2 separate regions of the Homo sapiens genome follow, and region 2 is linked to region 1. Evidence: fine-mapped expression QTL. A gene starts in region 1. The other region holds a variant in brackets. All regions are shown on one strand. Distances are between the middles of the regions. Region 1 holds the start of SVIP (small VCP interacting protein). Region 2 overlaps GAS2 (growth arrest specific 2).

What was found. PIP is the estimated chance that this variant, and not a neighbour inherited with it, causes the effect.
Region 2: its variant is the best candidate, but not a certain one, in a credible set for the expression of SVIP in minor salivary gland (GTEx, PIP 0.59).

Annotation. Positions count from the first base shown.
Region 1 is chr11:22,825,433-22,834,807 of GRCh38, forward strand. It overlaps SVIP (small VCP interacting protein), which reads right to left and starts at 4,369. Exons shown (of 4, transcript NM_148893.3): 1 at 4,263-4,369; 2 at 2,392-2,442; 3 at 1,775-1,888. The coding sequence starts at 4,316. It overlaps LINC02718 (long intergenic non-protein coding RNA 2718), which reads left to right and starts at 3,982. Exons shown (of 11, transcript NR_187210.1): 1 at 3,982-4,179. RefSeq lists an enhancer at 3,964-4,273 and a silencer at 4,424-4,493.
Region 2 is chr11:22,797,980-22,807,354 of GRCh38, forward strand. The region is part of intron 7 of GAS2 (growth arrest specific 2); the gene reads left to right. Among named protein-coding and RNA genes, the nearest start is that of LINC02718, 27 kb to the right of the region's middle. The variant T/C (reference allele first, on the strand shown) is at 3,757.

The sequences.
Region 1 (9,375 bases):
AAATTACTCACAGTGGACAACAGCAGTGGCTAATGACAGTGAGCCACTGGAGAAAATCCTCCTGCCACTATATAGTTTCAAGGTCCTGAAGGTCATTTTTACTAAGTGAGTTTGAGAGATTTCTTACAAGAACAGTACACAAAGAAAAACAGAAACTAAATTTAACTTTGGGTATGTTTTACATTTTGAGCACTTTTGAATGGATTGTAAGTAATATAAGGCCTAAATTTTTTTTTTAATCTATAGACTTCAGAGTGTGGAAGCTTCAAGTTTAAGAAAGCCTCTTTCTTTATTATACTTTAAAAGCTGATGTTAATTTCATTAGGTTAGAACTTGTGAAGTGTCTTCTTAATTATGATTAAGTGTTGATTAAATTATCCTTTTCCTATAACATTACGTATGACTTTAACTTAATACCTTCACCACTTCTACTGTGAAATAGTGGATCTCATTATTTCCAGTCCTACAATTTAACTTTTGTAATTTTGTGTTTGTTTTTGACAACCCTATATGAAGTAAACCTAGTGAAACAGCACTTTATCTCAACAGAATATTGAGATATGATAAAGAATTGACCTCGTTATCACCCAACTGTTTTACTTTACACTAGACCTATTCTGTTCTATTATGGAATTATAAAAAACATAAGCAAAATGGTCAGACTTATTTACCTTATATTGAAACTAATTATATATTGCTAAAAGTTCACCATAAAAAAACTTCATAAATTTTCATTCGTTAAATGATATAAGATGAAGTAACGTACAATAGTAAAATACACAGACACACATTCTTATTTCTGTGATATTCTTGAGCCAGAATCAACTGCTCAGGGTGTTCATAAACTGCCTGCCCCACAAGTTACGAGAGTATCTACATGTAGGCAAGTGTATGTGTATATGTCCATGTATATGTATGTGCATGTGTGTGTGTGTGTAGTTTTGAGAGAAAAAAAACCAATAAATCTGTTGAAAGGTACTCATAAATCATTGACAAGTTAAATATAAATGACTGAAATTAAAGACATTGTCCTTTTCACAAATATACTACTATTTACTTTAAAAATGGACCAAGAATAAATTCTTAATATCTGAGCCATTATTTTCCTGAGCTTTAAGGGATTTTAAAAATAAATCCTTTAAAGTCCTGCTAGAGTGTAAAGACTCCAGCATTCAGAGACTCTGCTTAACTTGTCCACCATTATATTCCCAGTGTCTAGCTCTGGGATCCATATCTAGGGAGGTATGTGTATGATACCCACACCTGTATACATTCTGTAATCCAAATTAACATTTACATAACTATAATAAACAGGGGCAATGGAAAGATCAAAGATTCCAAATCAATGCGTAAAAGAGCTCAGGCCATAAAACAGAACTTATAGCGTAATCCAATTTAATAAGATATATAAATGAAGGTTAGAAATTATGTCTGTCAAAATGGTACTTAGTTTGGATGACTTTTACACTTCTTTATACTTCTCCATATTGCTTGAATTTTTGAATTATTTAAGATTAGTAGTAAGCATAAGAGTATTAAAATATATATAGTGTTAAAATAATAAATCTATTATTTCATTTTGGGGAAAAAAGCTAATTGATTCCAATAAATGTTAAAATAAATTGGTATTACTTCCAATATTTACTACTCATGCTTTTAAACTATTTCAAAATTTTCTGATAATACATTTCAGGAGAAAATTATGAATGGATTGCTACTTAAGTTTTTTTAAAATGCCAGTTAAGTTAATCACTAAGAAAATTTTAATACTTACCCTAAGTCCACCTTCTGGTGGGGGCCCGGATGTAGCAATTTGTTTTTCTATTTTTTCCTTTTTCTTTCTCTTTTCTTGCACAGATTGAACATCTAAAATTCCCCGAGATGCAGCCTTGAAGAAATTTGATAAGAAAAACAGAAAGACAACAAAAATCTGTCCAGTGTGCAAAACATTTTTTTGTCTATCTTTGCTTTCTAGGTTTTTCTTTGGGGGTAGGGAGTTGGTTTATTTTTGGTAACATAGAAGGAGTGTTTCTACAACAGCCTTACATAAAACATCATTTCTTCACTGGGTATTTTGTAACTATACAAATTTTCCCCTAAACTTGCTTCACATCTGTAAGTATTTTACAATGCACAGCCATTTTAAAAGGAAGGATGTTACTAAAAGAGTATCTGAATTTAGAGAAGATATGATAGTTTTCATATATTAATATAAATATATTAATGCAATTCATATAAATAAGGAAATCATTTTGAAAATAATTACATTTAAATGTAAATTTTTGGGATATCAAAGGCCATTTGCGTTAGAAAATCTAGCTATGGACATCTATGAAGAATAAAGTCCAAACTCAATTATCTAAGTAGGCAAAACTTGATCTTTAATCTTACCTCTTTTTGTCTTCTCTCTGCAGCCTCTGCAAGCTTTGCTCTTTTCTCTTCCTAAATAAATGTGTAAAAATATGTATTAAAATAACAAACATTATTATTAATAAATTATTCACATTTATTTCATAGGCACTATAACAATTTACAAAAATATTCGGTACTGGCCCTAAATGTCCCACAAAGAATGCCACTACTCAACTTTTTGAATTTCATTCTCCTAATCAATATGCCTTCAAATCAGCACATGCTAAAACAGATACAAGGTTTACCTATATAATCATTTATTTACTCTCTTTTTTAATAAAAAGGCCTACAAGCTAGTCAGGGCAATAACAAAACAAATAATGTTTACAAATACAAAAAGGAAAATACATGGTTTGTTACTGCCGGTTAAAATGGAGTCTGAAGTAACCTGGTGTTTTTAGGAAAGGTTAATAAATGAAGTGGGCTAATCTCAGTGTGTAGGAGGGAAGGACTGGAGTAATTTCATGAGAGGTATTGTTCCATATCAGAAAACAGTGAATGCTATTTTTCTAGACCATGTACTACTTATTATAAAGCCCTTTTTCTAGGTGCTGGGATACAACAGTGTAAAAACATAGATAAATGTCTCCTCCCAAATGAAACAAATTCCAATTGCGGGCGCACAGACAAATATAATGAAGTAAGTAAACGTCTGTCAGATGGCATGGCAGATAAGTAATGGGAGAATGGGTGGGTGGTATTGTGGGGAATATATTTTGTTTAACGTGGTCAGCAAAAGCTTCACTGGTAAAGTGACATCCAAGCAGTGAGCCGTGTGGTTATCAAGGGAAGAGGGTATAGTATGAGGATGGGGGGGAGGGCTTAACAAATCTGACATGTTATATTTTATCGACAGCCAGAACAACAAAATCAACTTAATTTAAAACAACAGCAGCAACAAAGAGAAGCTGAACTTTCCCACATCAAATTTATAAGTACTAAATTTTTAGTATCTATAGTAGCTGAAGAGTTAATGTACTTCCCAAAAATACTTCATTTTCTTCAACTAATTTTTAGCTAGAGAAGAGAAACAGGTTTATGTTAACTCCCTGTAAGGAGTACTAATGTAAAGATACTGTTAACAGAAAGCTACAAAAAGTGTACATGTATTGTACCACACACCCACTAGCTACATTTGAATTTCAGATAAGCAATGAGTAATGTTTTTGTAGAACTAGATCCCTAATATTGCATGGCACAAAACGATATTATAAACGTATTCCTTGTATATCTGAAATTCGAATGTAACTGGGTGTCCAGTATTTTTATTAAATACGACATTATAAATTGGACACTCTGTACTACATATTCTTTTAAAGGGAGAACGTAAAAGAATGAGATAAATACTAAAAAGAAATCATTAAAAAAACATATCCGATAAAGCTCAGGCGTATAAGCGACTTTCCGAGCACCTTCTTTTAAAAGATGGTAGACACAGTTGAAAACGCACATCTCCTAGACGACTAAAGAGCTCCCGGAGAAAGCAATGTCTTTTCGCGCCGAATTCCATCTACCACATCCCCCGGAATGTCCCACGCGTAACGCCCTCTGCGTGCGCCGGCGCCCTATGAAGATCCGGCGCAGCTAAAGTCAGTGGAAGGTAGAAAGACGCCACAGCCGCCTTTCGACAACTTTTTGTTACAAAAGTGGAGATCTACACGGAGGCGACGGCCTAGGTCGCTCTGACAGGACCCAACGACCCTCCTGACGCGTCCACCCGTCCTCGCTAGCAGGGTCCCCCAGCGGGCTCTCGACCTGCGCCACCAGGTACAATGGCTCGGCCCGCCCCGCAACCCGAGGACAGGTGCTCAAGGCGCGGCCCGGCGGACGCAGGGACCTGCTCTACTCACCAGGTCCGGCGTGGGAGGCGCGGACTCCCCGGGACAAGGAAAACACAGCCCCATAGGGACGACAGCTTGAGAACCCTGACCGGGTCCGGCCCAGGCCAGGCGGCGCTAACTGCGCGGTCCGGAGCCGGTCCCTGGTCCTCCGCGCTTGCCCCGCCCCCACCGCCCTCCACTGGCTCGGCTCCGCCCCAGCGGCAACGCCCCGCCCCCACCCCGCAGCTCTGCCCCGCCTCGCCTCTCTGCGGCAACGCCCCCCTCTTCTCGCGACACCAACCAGTCCCACAGCTCAGCTGCGCCCCCTTAAGGCATTGCCCCTTCCTCACCCACAGCTCCGCCTACCCCCGCCCCGCGACCGCTGGGCTTGTGGCCAAAGCCTAGGTTCCAGGAAACACCTGCTGTGGGTAGCAATGCAGGGAAGGGATGGAAAAGCTTCGCTACGGTTCCAAAGCTCTTCCTGCTAACCTTGCCTTACCATTTATAAATGAATGAGTGGTACAGCTCTGGGTAGTTCATGCTACCTTTTTTTATGAGATGGGACTCTGGTGTCCTAGAAATTAAAGCCAAAATTCCAAGTAAACATCAGCACCCTTTTCTCCCTTCTTAGTGACAGTGCTATTCCAGAACAGAGGGCAGAATATAAAATCCATTATTATGACGATGAATCTAGCGTCATAAATGTGGCATTAGTTGACATTTCCACTAGTTTCTGGTATTTAGAAGTCATTTATCCTTCCGAGAGAAATAATAAAGTTTCATCTACTGAGAAATGTTTTAATGATTCTCCTCAAATTTTAATAAGTATGAGAATCAGCTGGGCAACTAGTTAAAATTTACTTGCTGATTTAGTAAGTATAAGGTGGGACCTGAGATTCATTTCCAGTAAACCCACAGGTGATACTAAAGTTACTGATCTCGTCTCCACACAAATGCTTTTATTTTATTTTATTTTATTTTTGCATTCTATTAGTTATTTCTGCTTATGTAAAAATTTTCAAACATTACAAAAAGGTAGGATGTATAGTGACAGCGTCTCAGAAACCATTGTCGGCTTTTTGATATACTTGCTGGTTAATTTTTTATAGATGTATAATTTACATATAATATTATGCACTTATTTTGATTGTAGAGTTCACTGAGTTTTAACAAACATGTGATCACCACATTCAAGATATGTAAGTTTTCCATCACCCAAAAACCTTCTATTGTACCCAATCCCATTCAATACTTTATCCTATACCTAGATCCAGGAAACTATTAATTTGTTTAATATCACTTTAGTCTTTAAGTTTTGCATAAATGTTAATATCACTATAGTCTTTAAGTTTTACATAAATGAAATATACAATATGTTTTGCAAAAGCCATAATATTTTCTAAATTCTTCCATGTTATTGAATGAAACAGTAGTTTATTCCTTAAATAATAGGGGATGATGCTTTTTTAATACTATTATTCGATTGCATGGGCCGTTTCTAAGGGTAAATAAAAATATATAAAGAAAAAGTGAAGGTTCTCTGTTGCAAAAAGAGAAAGATAACTACCCACCTCCTCTTTAGCATTGTGTTTAGAAAACGTGAAATTGTAAGCGCTATCTCTGTCTCACTGAAATGTATGAAAAAAAAAAAAAGGCCAGGCATGGTGGCTTACTCCTGTACTTTTGGAGGCCAAGGTGGGTGGATCACCTGAGGTCAGGAGTTTAAGACCAGCCTGACCAACGTGGGGAAACCCTTTCTCTATTAAAAATACAAAACTTCGCCAGGCATGGTGGTGGGCGCCTGTAATCCCAGCTACTCCGGAGGCTGAGCAGGGAGAATCGTTTGAACCCGGGAGGCGGAGGTTGCAGTGAGCCGAGCTCGCGCCACTGCACTCCAGCCTGCACAACAGAGAGAGATTGCGTCGAAAGAAAAGAAAGAGAGGAGGGGAGGGGAGGGGAGGGGAGGGCAGGGGAGGCTAAATAAGCCTCTTGCCAGTTTTGCATCAGAAAGAAAGAACCTAAATAAGCCTCTTGCCAGTTTTGTATCCTCAGAATATCTTTGGAGGCCTATTGGCTTTCTCTTAGAAATGAAAACATCCCAGAGTGGCACCTGTCTCCCCGTCTTCATGGTAGTTTACTGTCTAGGCACTTGGCTTCAAGATGGAGCTTTCTGCTTGTCAAGAGATACAAGTGTTATTCTTTCCTTTAGATTTCTTTTAGATAAAAACAATTAACATGTGTGTAGTGGACTGTATCTGACAGGCTATATAAAAATGGTGAAGAATGTTTTCATTGCAAACTCTTTAGTAGATTGCTTCTGATAGAAATCACAATCGATTTAATGCTTATTCAATGATAAAACTGTTTCTTTTCTGCATTTGTGGAGAGTTTCCTGCATTGGCAGATTTTGTTTTTAATTATTATCAAAACACTTTCCATGACATAATTATTTCCCCAACACTTTCCATGGTTTATTGATTTTTATTTTTAATAAACATTATTGAGATATAAAATACAATTAACACATCTACTTTAGGTGTACAGTAGTGCCTTCCATTCCTGGTTTTGATAAAGTTTCAGTTTATTTATTCAACATTAATATCACTATAATCTGTAAGTTTTACATAAATGAAATATACAATATATGTTTTGCACATGTATTGTCAACTGCATGGTCAACTGAGGTCCAAAAATATTAAATGGAAAATTCCAGAAATAATTTGTAAATTATAAATTGCTTGCCTTCTAAGTATCTGATCAAATCTTAGGCTGTCCTAATCCATCACACACAGGATGTGAATGATGTGAATCATCCCTTTGTACAGCGTATCCACAGTGTCTAAGCCACCCCGCCCATTAGTCACTTAGTAGCTATCTCAGTTGTCACATTAACTGTTGGTATTACAGTGCTGGTGTTCAAATAACCCTTATTTTACATATTAATGACCCAAAGTGCAAAATTAGTGATAATGGCATATTGTTATAATTGTTTTATTATTAGTTGTTAATCTGTTACTGCACCTAATTTATAAATTAAACTTTATCATGGGTATTACGTATAGAAAAAAACAGTGCAGATACAGTCACTGACCAAGATGGCCTAATGTTTCCTGCTGCCTGACTAACCTTTAGACAGGGTTCTTCCTGATTGTTGGCCTCTGACCTCCCTATTTTTAGACCATTCACTTTAAAAAAAACTTGCAAAGTGTACATTTTCTCTGCTCCTTTAAGATGTAAATCTTCTGGCCTCTTATCAGTTCTACAATGCAGAACCATCTTTCTCAAAAACCTGGGTGTCATCTCTTTGAAATTCAATAATTAAGAAAGGTAGAACCTTTTTTTATCTCCTAATCTCTGTGGGAGAGTAGGAGCCTGACTTCCCTAAGCACCAATCAGCAAACACAGATGGTCTAACCCTATTGACCAACATACAGTACTTTTCCACTTAGGGACTTCTGTGCTTAAAATCTCTCCTGCTTTTTTTTTCAGTGGCATTGAGCCCTCTTTCTGTGCCTTATTACAGTGGTCTTAAATAAAGTCTTTTGTTGCTGTTTAACTCTGTCAGGTGCAAATTGTCTTGGATATTAGTTGAGTTTTTGACAATTATATGTGCTCTTGTAAACACCATAAGAAGGTATACAACATTTCCATTACTCTAAAAGTTTTCCTTGTGCCACTTTCCAAACAATCCCCCATTGACCTCTAGCCCACGACAAATATTGATTTGCTTTCTGTCTCTATTAATTAACTACACACTTTCTAAAATTTCATAGAAATGGAAATATATCGTAAGTGCTTCTTTTGTCTGGCTCTGCTCCTTCTACATAAAGTTTCTGAAATTCATCAGTGTTACTGTGTCTGCTTCTTAATATTACATTGTTATAAGTATGCTACATTTAAAAAGTTAATTTACCAGGGGGCACAGTGGCTCTTGCCTGTAGTATCAGCTATTCAGGAGGCTGAAGACGTAGGATCACTCAAGCCCAGGAGGTTGAGACCAGCCTGGGCAACATGGGGAGACCCCATCTCTACAAAACATAACAAAAAATAGCTGAGCACAGTGGTGTGTGCCTGTAGTCTCAGTGACTGGGGAGGCTGAGGGTGGAGAAACACATGAGCCCAAGGAAGTCGAATGGAGAGACCTCATCTCTACAAAAAATACAAAAAATAGCTGAGCACGGTGGTGTGTGCCTGTAGTCCCAGTGACTGGGGAGGCTGAGGGTGGAGAAACACATGAGCCCAAGGAAGTCGAGGCTGGAGTGAACCATGATTGCACCACTGCACTCCAGCCCGGGCAATGGAGTGAGACCCCATCTCAAAACAAACAAACAATAACAACAACCCCCCAAAACCCCCAAAATGTCAATTTACCTATTCATGGATGTATGGGCTCCTTTGAGTCTTTTCAGGCCATTATGAACAAAGCTCCGTGAATATTTGTGTGCAGTTATTTGTGTGAAGTTTTTTTTGTCTTGACTACCTAAAAATGGAATAACTTATTTATATTTTACATGTATGGAAATGAGGACTGAACTCTTAATTTTTTTATCTTGCCCAAATCCCTATCTAAGGGGTCTGGGGAGTCATGCCCTACAAATCATAAATTCTCATCAGATGGATTTTATTTAACCCCGTATATCATGATTTACTTTCCAACCTAACTCTGGCATAACATTACAAGACAAAGAAGAAAATTAAAATATGTTACCCAAAAACATGTTTCTTTGCCATATTTTGAAATGACCCTCCAAAGCGTTTCTTTGTGGGGGAAAATGTGCAGCTGTAAAGAATCTCTATTAACATACCTAGATTTTTTTCTTCCAGACCCTCCCAATCCTAAAGAGATTAACTAAGAGCTGAATAGGAAACATTGGGCACCTGTTGCCTCTAAGGGCAGCCACTATAAGACTTCAAAAGAACTTTGGTCTCCACAATCTTTATCTGAACCTGAACATTCCCTTTCTATCTATCCCAGGTCTTCAGACAAACTCAACCAATTGTCAACCAGAAAAATGTTTAAATTTACCTATAGCCTGGAAGCTCCTGCTTTGAGTTGTTCTGCCTTTCTGGACCAAACCAATGTACTTCTTAAATGTATTTGATTGATGTCTCATGCTCTCTAAAATGCATAAAACCAAGCTGC
Region 2 (9,375 bases), 27 kb before region 1:
GACTGTACCCTTGGCAAAGTCACTTTAGGATGTATAGTTGAGTGGTAATGAGTATTATCTGAATCCTAAGAGATTTTCAAATCTGAACTTCGTTGCTTCTTAGCTAGGTGACCTTGGGCAATTCACTTAACCTTGTCGAGCCACTGTTTTCTCATTTTTAAATATGAACATAATGCAAACCACTTAGAGTTGCTCCAAGGATTAAATGAAATAAAACCTGTAAGAACCTTATCATTATCAGTGGCAGCAGCAGCAGCACAACATTATTATTTAAAAATAACAATAGCAGGCTATTTATTATTGAGTCTACACCATGTTCCAGGCACTGTTTCTACATGCTTACACATATTAATATCTGTGTTTGAACAACTATGGGAGGAAGGAATTACTATAGTCATTATTTTGCAGATGAGAAACTGAGACACAGATTAAAGAAATTTATTCTGGTCATACAGCAAGTTGGCAGCCTGATAAAGGAAAAACAAATAGGAGCTTCTGCTCTGTTTACTGTTATTTATCTCTCTGAAGTTTTATCTAAGAAAAGGGTATAATAAGCTAAAGGACTATTGGGAAGTTAAAATGAGATAGTAAATAAGATAATAAATAAGAAAAAAATGCTTGTAAAGAGTAAAACGGTAATTCCAGAAGCTTGTTTATTTGGGCTGTGATTAACAATTTGTAATCGCACGTAACTAGAGAAGTTGAAATGAATTCCCCACCTTTGGCAAGGACGTCTTTAAGTGTCATTTGTTATTAGTAGTGCCTCAGTTTGCCCTGCTAACAGGTGATCTTATCAGTTATCTTGAAAATGCTAGAATCAAGCTTTCAACATGGCAAACTATCCATGGAACACCTGCTGTCTCACTCCTCCATGTGTCAAGGTACCTCAGGGAGATAGCTGAATTCCCAATCACCCAATTTTGAGCATATGCCATTTCAGAATAATATTAGACAATGACAGAGTCTGTTGTCCTATAAATTAATTTAACACTTTTCCTCTGGAGAGCAGATGACTGCATTCTAAAAACAATATTTTCTCTCGAGTTATGATGGCTTGTAAAAACACACAGTGAATGGAGTTGACAGGAAGGTGTTGGGAAGCATATGATATCCCAGGGGGCTGAACAGATCTAAATTTAGGTGGGTTGTCTCTACTAGGCAGTTGGTGTCAGATACCATTGCCTCTTAAAAGGATGACTTCAGTGAAGAGCAGTTAACAGATTGTGCAGAAACATAAGCCTCTGTGGTCCATTAAGTGGGGAATCATTTAATGAGACCCAGAGTTGCACTGAGGGAACCATGGCACTTAAGCATTAAAAGACAGAAAAGGAAGGGGTGAAAATTTTATGAAGCAATTTATTACTGCTGTAAACCATGTATTTTAAAAAATGCATTCCAGGTATAATAAGAACTTGTGAATGAAGATCATGAAGAGAATAATGTACTTAATTCACTATGGATTCTGTCATGATATTTGTTTCTTCTCTTTTTGCTTCCCTTTTCCCCATTTCTTCTTCTTCTGTTTCTCTCTTGATTCTCAATACAATCTCCCACTTTCTTATGCAATTCCTGTTATAGCTTCAATTTTTGACCCACGTCTATCTTTCTCTCAAAGAAATTCTCTAAGCAAAAATTGGTCTGAATTATCATTCACACAGATTTTTTTCAGACTCCTCTTTCTAAATAAGGGCATAAACCATTTTACCTTTCTCTTTCTCCTATCTTTTCCTAAATAAGCAATGCAGATATAATTTATAAAGGTAGTGTTGCTTGGAATGGGGCATTAGTAAGTATTAGTTTTGTTCATCCAGTCGTTTAACATGCATTTATTCATTTAATATTCATCTAATAAACATTGTGTGCCCGGCACTGTGCTAGGCACCCAGGGTATGAAATTTAGCAAGGAATAACCTTGCCTGCCACTCAACAAATATTTGTTGAATGATCAAAGGAAGGGATTCACTTTAATTCACCTAGTGAATGGGGAACAATTCTCTGCATGTATAAAGGCAGGAAACTTTCTTGGGATTTTAAGGAGTTCACAATATCTATGGAGTGAGTAATTTGTTGAGTGGGCCTGGGCTCAGAAGGTAGGACTACATGCAGTATAGTACAGTTGTGCAGTGCACATCCTGAACAGTCATACATGATAACTCTGGCATAGTAAGAAAGAATGTGGGAAAAGAAAATAGTAGCTGGGCTATAAAGTGCTTTGCGAGCCAGGTTACTTGTTCTTATGGAGGGATGAGGGTAGAAGTAAAAGAGAAGGTATCAGAATTGCTGTCAAATTTTCCACATTATGTATGCTTCTGACCACCATGGGGATGCTGATGTCCTCCCCTTACCCCTACTACTTTCCCAGGATCTTCGCCACATTGCCAATTTACTGTAAGTCATATTTCTCAGGTGAGCTGTAGCTAAGAATGTCTGAGAAACACTAGACAATGGAGAGCCCTCACAGGTTTTTAAGAAGGCGGTAGCATGTTCAGATTTTCCTTTGAGGAAGATTACTGTGGCTCTGGAGTAGACGGTGGACTAGTGAAGAGTGAGAGATGAGGAGACATCCTGCTGAAAAGCGTTCATGTCCTCAAGGTCTAATGACATCTGTGTTCAGAGCACTTGACAGATACTCCTGCTGCCCTCAGTTTTCAGGGCCACCAGCACAATATTAGAGACAGAATGAAACAGATTTGTCACTGTCATCCTGAGAGGGCGATGACACCTGACACATTTCATACGAATTACGATTTCAAACAGACAGGGACATTCAAGCAGATCTATGCTGGGGAATTAAATAAAGCTATAAAATATAAACATGAACTTTTAATTTAAAATTCTCATTGAAAAGACATTTCCTGTTGGGTAGTTTTTATTTTTGTTAGTGGTTTTGCTTGTTTGTTGTTTATGTAATATAGCTAGGATATATACAGCTTGGTTATCTTAAAAAACAAGTACATTACCAATAAATGCATATTTTTTTCTGGCTCTCCTATGTGGCCATTACTTTTTCATTTAGTAAAACATATGATTTTCTGTGATCTACATGAATGTAGACTTTACCTTTTCAATGAAAAGCGAGTTGATATATTTGTTTCTAAACACAAATGTTCCCAAGAAAAAGGAAAAGACATTCTTCTTTTTTTATTGCTTTAAGTTCTTACCTCCATATAATGTGATTCCAGCCTGTCTTGCTAAACTACATAACTAAGAGACAGGGGAAAAAAAACTCCTTTCTGAAATCCTGTTATCACATATCATAGAAGCCAGAGCACTAGACCCCTTGATACTGCAGTGACCTCCCCAAGACCCACAGGAAGCTGCTGACTGATCATTTCTACAACTTACGAAATTTTCATTATGTTCTAAGTTAACATGGGAAAGTTAACTTATTTCATTTCAACTTATTTTTCCCCTTTGGATTAAGTATCTGGATGAGCTAAGAAACTTGATTGGGGTGGGGGCATGGGATAGTTTTTTTTTTTATTATTTAATGTTAGGAAAATAAAATTAAAAGGTCTCAAAAATGTGTATTCAATTCAGTAAAACATAGATAGTGACTTACGTGACATGATGTAATAAATCACTGCTGTATCAATATATTAAATGATACACGGACCATTAAATATTGCATTCATTATTAGGAAAATAATTTTTGAAATAACACAGCTCCTTAATTCTAAGGTCATATGCTAGATGGGGAATAAAGATGTGGTTTCTAGCCTGGCTCTGGTGAACCACCTATGTGACCTCTCAGAC[T/C]GTGCATCTGTGCAACATTGCCAGTGACCTCGATGTTTCTTTTTAATCCTCTTAATTTCAACAGGGCATATTCGTAGATTACTTGGCACATAGTAAGCACTCTACTATTGTATGACTCTATGTCATTCAAGGAAACACTTTCCCTCTTACTGTCACATATGAAGAGGTTTTCTAATTAAAACACATAATTAAGCATCACAGTAAGACAAAGTCATGAAACAAAATGCTCTTGATTAAGAATGGGAGTGTTTCTTCTCATTACTGAGAGAAAATATAAAAAAAAAAGCAAAAAGACAACTTTGAGACATATTGATTCTTTCCTCTTGACAAGGAATGTGTATCATTAATAGAAACAAAGAAATGATTTACAGTGTTTGCAACAGCCTGAGTATGCTTATAGAGCTTCATTAGGGACACTGGGATAAAAGCTGAGATAATTTCCAACCATCATTCTGAGCAAACTATCACAAGGACAGAAAACCAAACACTGCATGTTCTCACTCACAGGTGGGAATTGAACAATGAGAACGCTTGGACACAGGGTGGGGAACATCACACATGGGGGCCTGTTGTGGGGTGGAGGGAGGAGGGAGGGATAGCATTAGGAGATATACCTAATGTAAATGGGGAGTTAATGGGTGCAGCACACCAACATGGCACATGTATACATATGTAACAACCCTGCAGGTTGTGCACATGTACCCTAGAACTTAAAGTATTAAAAAAAAAAAAAACCCAAGCTGAGCTAAGATTTTGGTCACGGTCTTTTTTTTCCCCCTTCAGAATTGAGAAATGTTGCTTAAGTCAGTAATGGATCGCCTTGACTTTGCTATGATCAGAGGCACAGTAAGGAATGAAGCCAATTGTTAAAAATGATGACAGCCATAATAAAACCTAACATGCAAAAACTACTGCTTTGCAACTTATAGTGTTGGAGGCTATTTGTAGCAACTCTTTTATTTCTTATCAACAACAAAAATAAAGAAAAATAACAAACACCAACATAGGACTAAATACTCGATATTCAATATAGTCATGTACTCTATAACAATGTTTCAGTCAATAAGAATGGTTCTGTAAGATTTTAATACAGATTTTTACTGTACTTTTTCTATGTTTGGATATCTTCAGATACACAAATACTTACCATGTGTTATAATTGCCTATGTATTCAGTACAGTAATTTGCTGTACGGGTTTGTAGCCTGGAAGCAACAGGCTATCTTATGTAGCTTAGGTGTGTAGAAGGCTGTGCCATCTCGTTTTGTGTAAGTACACTCTATGATGTTCACACAGTGGTGAAATTGCCTAACACACATTCTCAGAATGTGTTCTCATTGTTACGTGTTGCACAACCATTCCTCAATTGACATATGCATTGATGCTACTGGTCAAGAGCCGCTACCTTTTAGAATGAAGAACACAAAGTTCAACTCTGTGAAGCATTAAAATAAAAAACCAGTGAGATATACACTGGACAGAAATCAAAGCCCCTTCTTACTTATGCCAACAGATAACTAGTGTATTCCGTCGTGTTACCTCACTAGACACGTTTTCTTCTGAAATAATTAGGGCTACTTGAGGATAATCTTCTGAAATTAAATTTAATGTTTATTTAAGATTTGTTAGGACATAAGCCTATGAATCATTTTAAATGAGCACAGTTAATCTGCTTACACTACTTACTACTTCTGATATTAGTGATATCTTGCCTGTGCTGAATTATCACAGATAAGTAACCAAGCATGGGTGAAAACCAAAATCTAGCACTTTGCAGAATATGTGGGTATGTTTTAATGGAATAAAGGATTCTTGTCCCAGTTCTGCTACTGATTTGTTGTGTGATCCTGCCTAAGTTGCTTAACTTCTCAGAGCATCAGTATTCCTATCTATAAAAGGAGTAATACTGATAATGACATTATAGATTAGATAAAGTAGGTACAACCTGTGGAAGTATCAAATGAAAAGAAGTATTATATGATAACAGTATTGACCCTGTTCTGAGTTTGCATATATGAGATTCCAAAAATGAAGACTACATCATCCCTCTCTTCAGAGAGCTCACATATTCTGAAAAGGGACATACAGGTAAATCAGCAATTGCAATATTGTGGGATTCATGTAACTGTGAAATCATGTATAAACTAAACAGTACACAGCAAGGAAGGGTTCACTTATCTGGGGAAGGAGATGAACATGGAAGATTTTCCATATTCTGAAAAGGGACATACAGGTAAATCAGCAATTGCAATATTGTGAGATGCATGTAACAGTGAAATCACCTGGAAACTAAACAGTACACAGAAAGGAAGGATTCACTTATCTGGGGAAGGAGATGACCATGGAAGATTTTCCAGTTGGGGGTGATGTTTTGAACATCAGGGAAGAAGCAAGGGCTAGAGTTATAATTTGGGAAACAAAAGTAGGTGGTAGTGAAAACCATGAGGTTACAAACAGAGAATGGTTAGAGTCAGAAAAGCAGTAGACAAAGGACAGAATATGTTAGAATGGCAAAACTTAACAATGTAGAAGAAATGTAACCTATCAAGGAGGCAGAGAAAGAACAATGAGATAGGTAGCAGGCAATTCAGGAGACAGACTTGTCACAGGTAGTCAAGAAGTGGGGAGTTTCAAGGAAGGAGTGGGCAATATCATTAGATACCTTGCTTGACAAAGTTATCATGAAAAATAAAGTTTAAGGACCATATATTGTATTTGATACATTAGAAGCCGTCTGGCTTCCTTTCTCTGTGCAGTCAGTTAAGAGGTAGAGGGCAGAAGCAAAGTGTACTGTAGGTTGTACCGTGATGAGCAAGTGAAGACACCAAGTGTGAATGTAACTATCAAGAAGGTCAGATGTAAGGAGAAAGTATGAAAGTAAGAGTGGAAATTAATGAGAGTTAGAACATAGTGGGAGGAATTGAACTTGGACAGGAGAACTTCTGAGATAAGAAAGGTGGAGTAAATGATAAGTGTAGATTCAGGTATATTGGCCAGTAGAGGTGTCAAGAGAGGATGCATGCTTGATAAAGGTGAAGTCATTGGTAGGCTGATGGAGGGTGGGGACAAGTAGTGTGTTTGAGAATAATAGATAAAAATGGGAAATGGAGCTGACCAAAACTAAAAGGATCACTTAATTGCAATTGGCCTGATGTCACTAATCTGTGAGATGGAAGAGTTCTTGGATGAAGTATATAATCTTCCTTCTAAACCAGCTCAGCATCTGTGCTGGAAAAGCTCATTGTAGTGCAAGCATTCTAGGGAAAGGGAGGGAAGAGTTTAAATAATAATAGCAGGCTGATTTGCTTTTAGGTTAAACAGTGGGAGTTTGGTTTATGGAGATGGAGGTGAGTGTTCAATTTTTTTTTTTTAGATCGGTCACATACCAGAAAAGCATGGAATTTTAATCTCTATAATCAGAGCTATAAATCTCTATGACAGTAATATCTTTTTTAAAAAAGAATTTATATATGGGTCCTCTTCTATTTACATATGTATTTGTTTAAATTGACAGATAAAATTATATGTATTCATCATGTATAACGTAAAGTTTTAAAGTACATATGCATTGTGGAATCACTAAATAGAGCTGATTAACAAATGTATTACCTACATAGTTATCATTTTTGTGGCAAGAACTCTTAACATCCACTCTTTTTGCATTTTTTTAATTAAGGAAGAATACAATATATCATTCTTAACTATAGTCATCATGCAGTACAACAAATCTTTTGAACTTATTCCTCCTATCTTTCTGTAATTATATATCCTTTGACTAACACCTTCCTATCACCCTCACCCACCAACCACTTCTGCTTCTAGTAACCACCATTCTTTTCTCTACTTCTATGAGATCAACATCTTTAGATTCCACATATGAGTGAAATTGTTGCAGAAAAGGGGTCTGGATCCAGACACCAAGAGTGGATTCTTGGATAAGTCCACAGAGTAAAGTGAAAGCAAGTATGTTAAGAAAGTAAAGAAATAAAAGAATGGCTACTCCATAAACAAAACATCCCTGAGTGCTGTTGGTTGCCCATATTCTGATTATTTCTTGATGAAATGCTAAACAAGGGGTAGACTATTCATGCCTCTCCCTTTTGGACCATATAGGGTAACTTCCTGATGTTGCCATGGCATCTGTAAAATGTCATGGCACTGGTGGGAGTGTCCAGTGAGGATGACCAGAGGTCACTCTCATCGCCAGCTTGGTTTTGATGGGTTTTGGCTGGCTTCTTTACTGCAACCTGTTGTATCAGCAAGGTTTTTATGAGCTGTGTCTTGTGCTGACCTTATCCTATATCTGATCCTATGACTTATCCTGTGAAATATCTCATTCTATGACTTAGAATGCCTTAACCATCTGGGAATGCAGCCCAGTAGGTCTCAGCCTCATTTTACCAAGCCCCTATTCAAGATGGAGTTGCTCTCATTCACATGCCTCCGACAAAATCATATGGTATTTTTATCTTTCTGTGCCTGGCTTCTTTCATGTACCACAATGTCCTCTGGGTTCATTCTCGTTGTTGCAAACAACAGGATTTTCTTCTGTATTATGGCTGAGTAGTATTCCATTATGTATATAAACCACATTTTCTCTGCCCATTCATCCATTAACGGACATGTAGGTTGACGCCATATCTTGGCTATTGTGAATAGTGCTGCAGTAAACCTGGGAGTGCAGATATCTGCACTTTGATATACTGATTTCATTTCGCTTGTATATATACCTAGTGGTGGAATTGCTGGATCACATGGTACCTTTATTTTTAATATTTTGAGGAATCTTTATGCTGTTTTCCATAATGGCTATACTAACTTGCATTTCCACCAATAATGTGTAAAGGTTCCCTTTTCTCCACATTCTTGCCAACACTTGTTATCTTTTGTATGACCCTAATATCTTAATCCCAAGCTTGAAACCTTCAAACAGCTTAGCCACTGGCTTTCTTAGCAAATTATAGGTTACTAATTAGCAAGGTCTAACTGAGACGTCAGCAAGAATAACTCAGAATTGAAAATCTGTTTACTAGAGTATATCCCCAGACAGGGCCACCTATTTCATGGAGAGAGGTTGTAAGGTTTGCTGTGGAAACCTCATAATATTGACCTAAAACCCTTCCATCTCCCAAGAGTAGCCAAAATGAGGCATGAGGAAAGGTAATGGATTCCACAATTACTCCTCATCAATATGAAATCAATATTCTTCTTTGAAGATGTAGAAAGTCCTTTCTGTTTTAAGTATTATGGGTAAGTACATGAATCATGGATGCTTACACCCTTGTCAAATACAGCATCAAGGAAGCATTCAGTGAAAGGCAATAGTGTATTTATGTATGTTTTCATTTTTTTCAGTGTAGCTTAGAAACAGAAAAGCAAAGAAAAAAGAAAAAACGACTCCTTCAAAGCAAGAGAGAAGCATTTTACAGTTCTGATAAATTTATAAGGACCCAAGCTGCAGAGCACTGACTAGGTCCATAGAGAAGATCAGGAAAAATATAAAACTGTCTTTGCAATAATTGGAAAATCCAAACAAACTACTAAGGCTGATACCTAGGAGAAATCTTCCAAGAGAAAGAAACCTCTGATATCTGATTTTACTATTAGTAATGTCCCATTC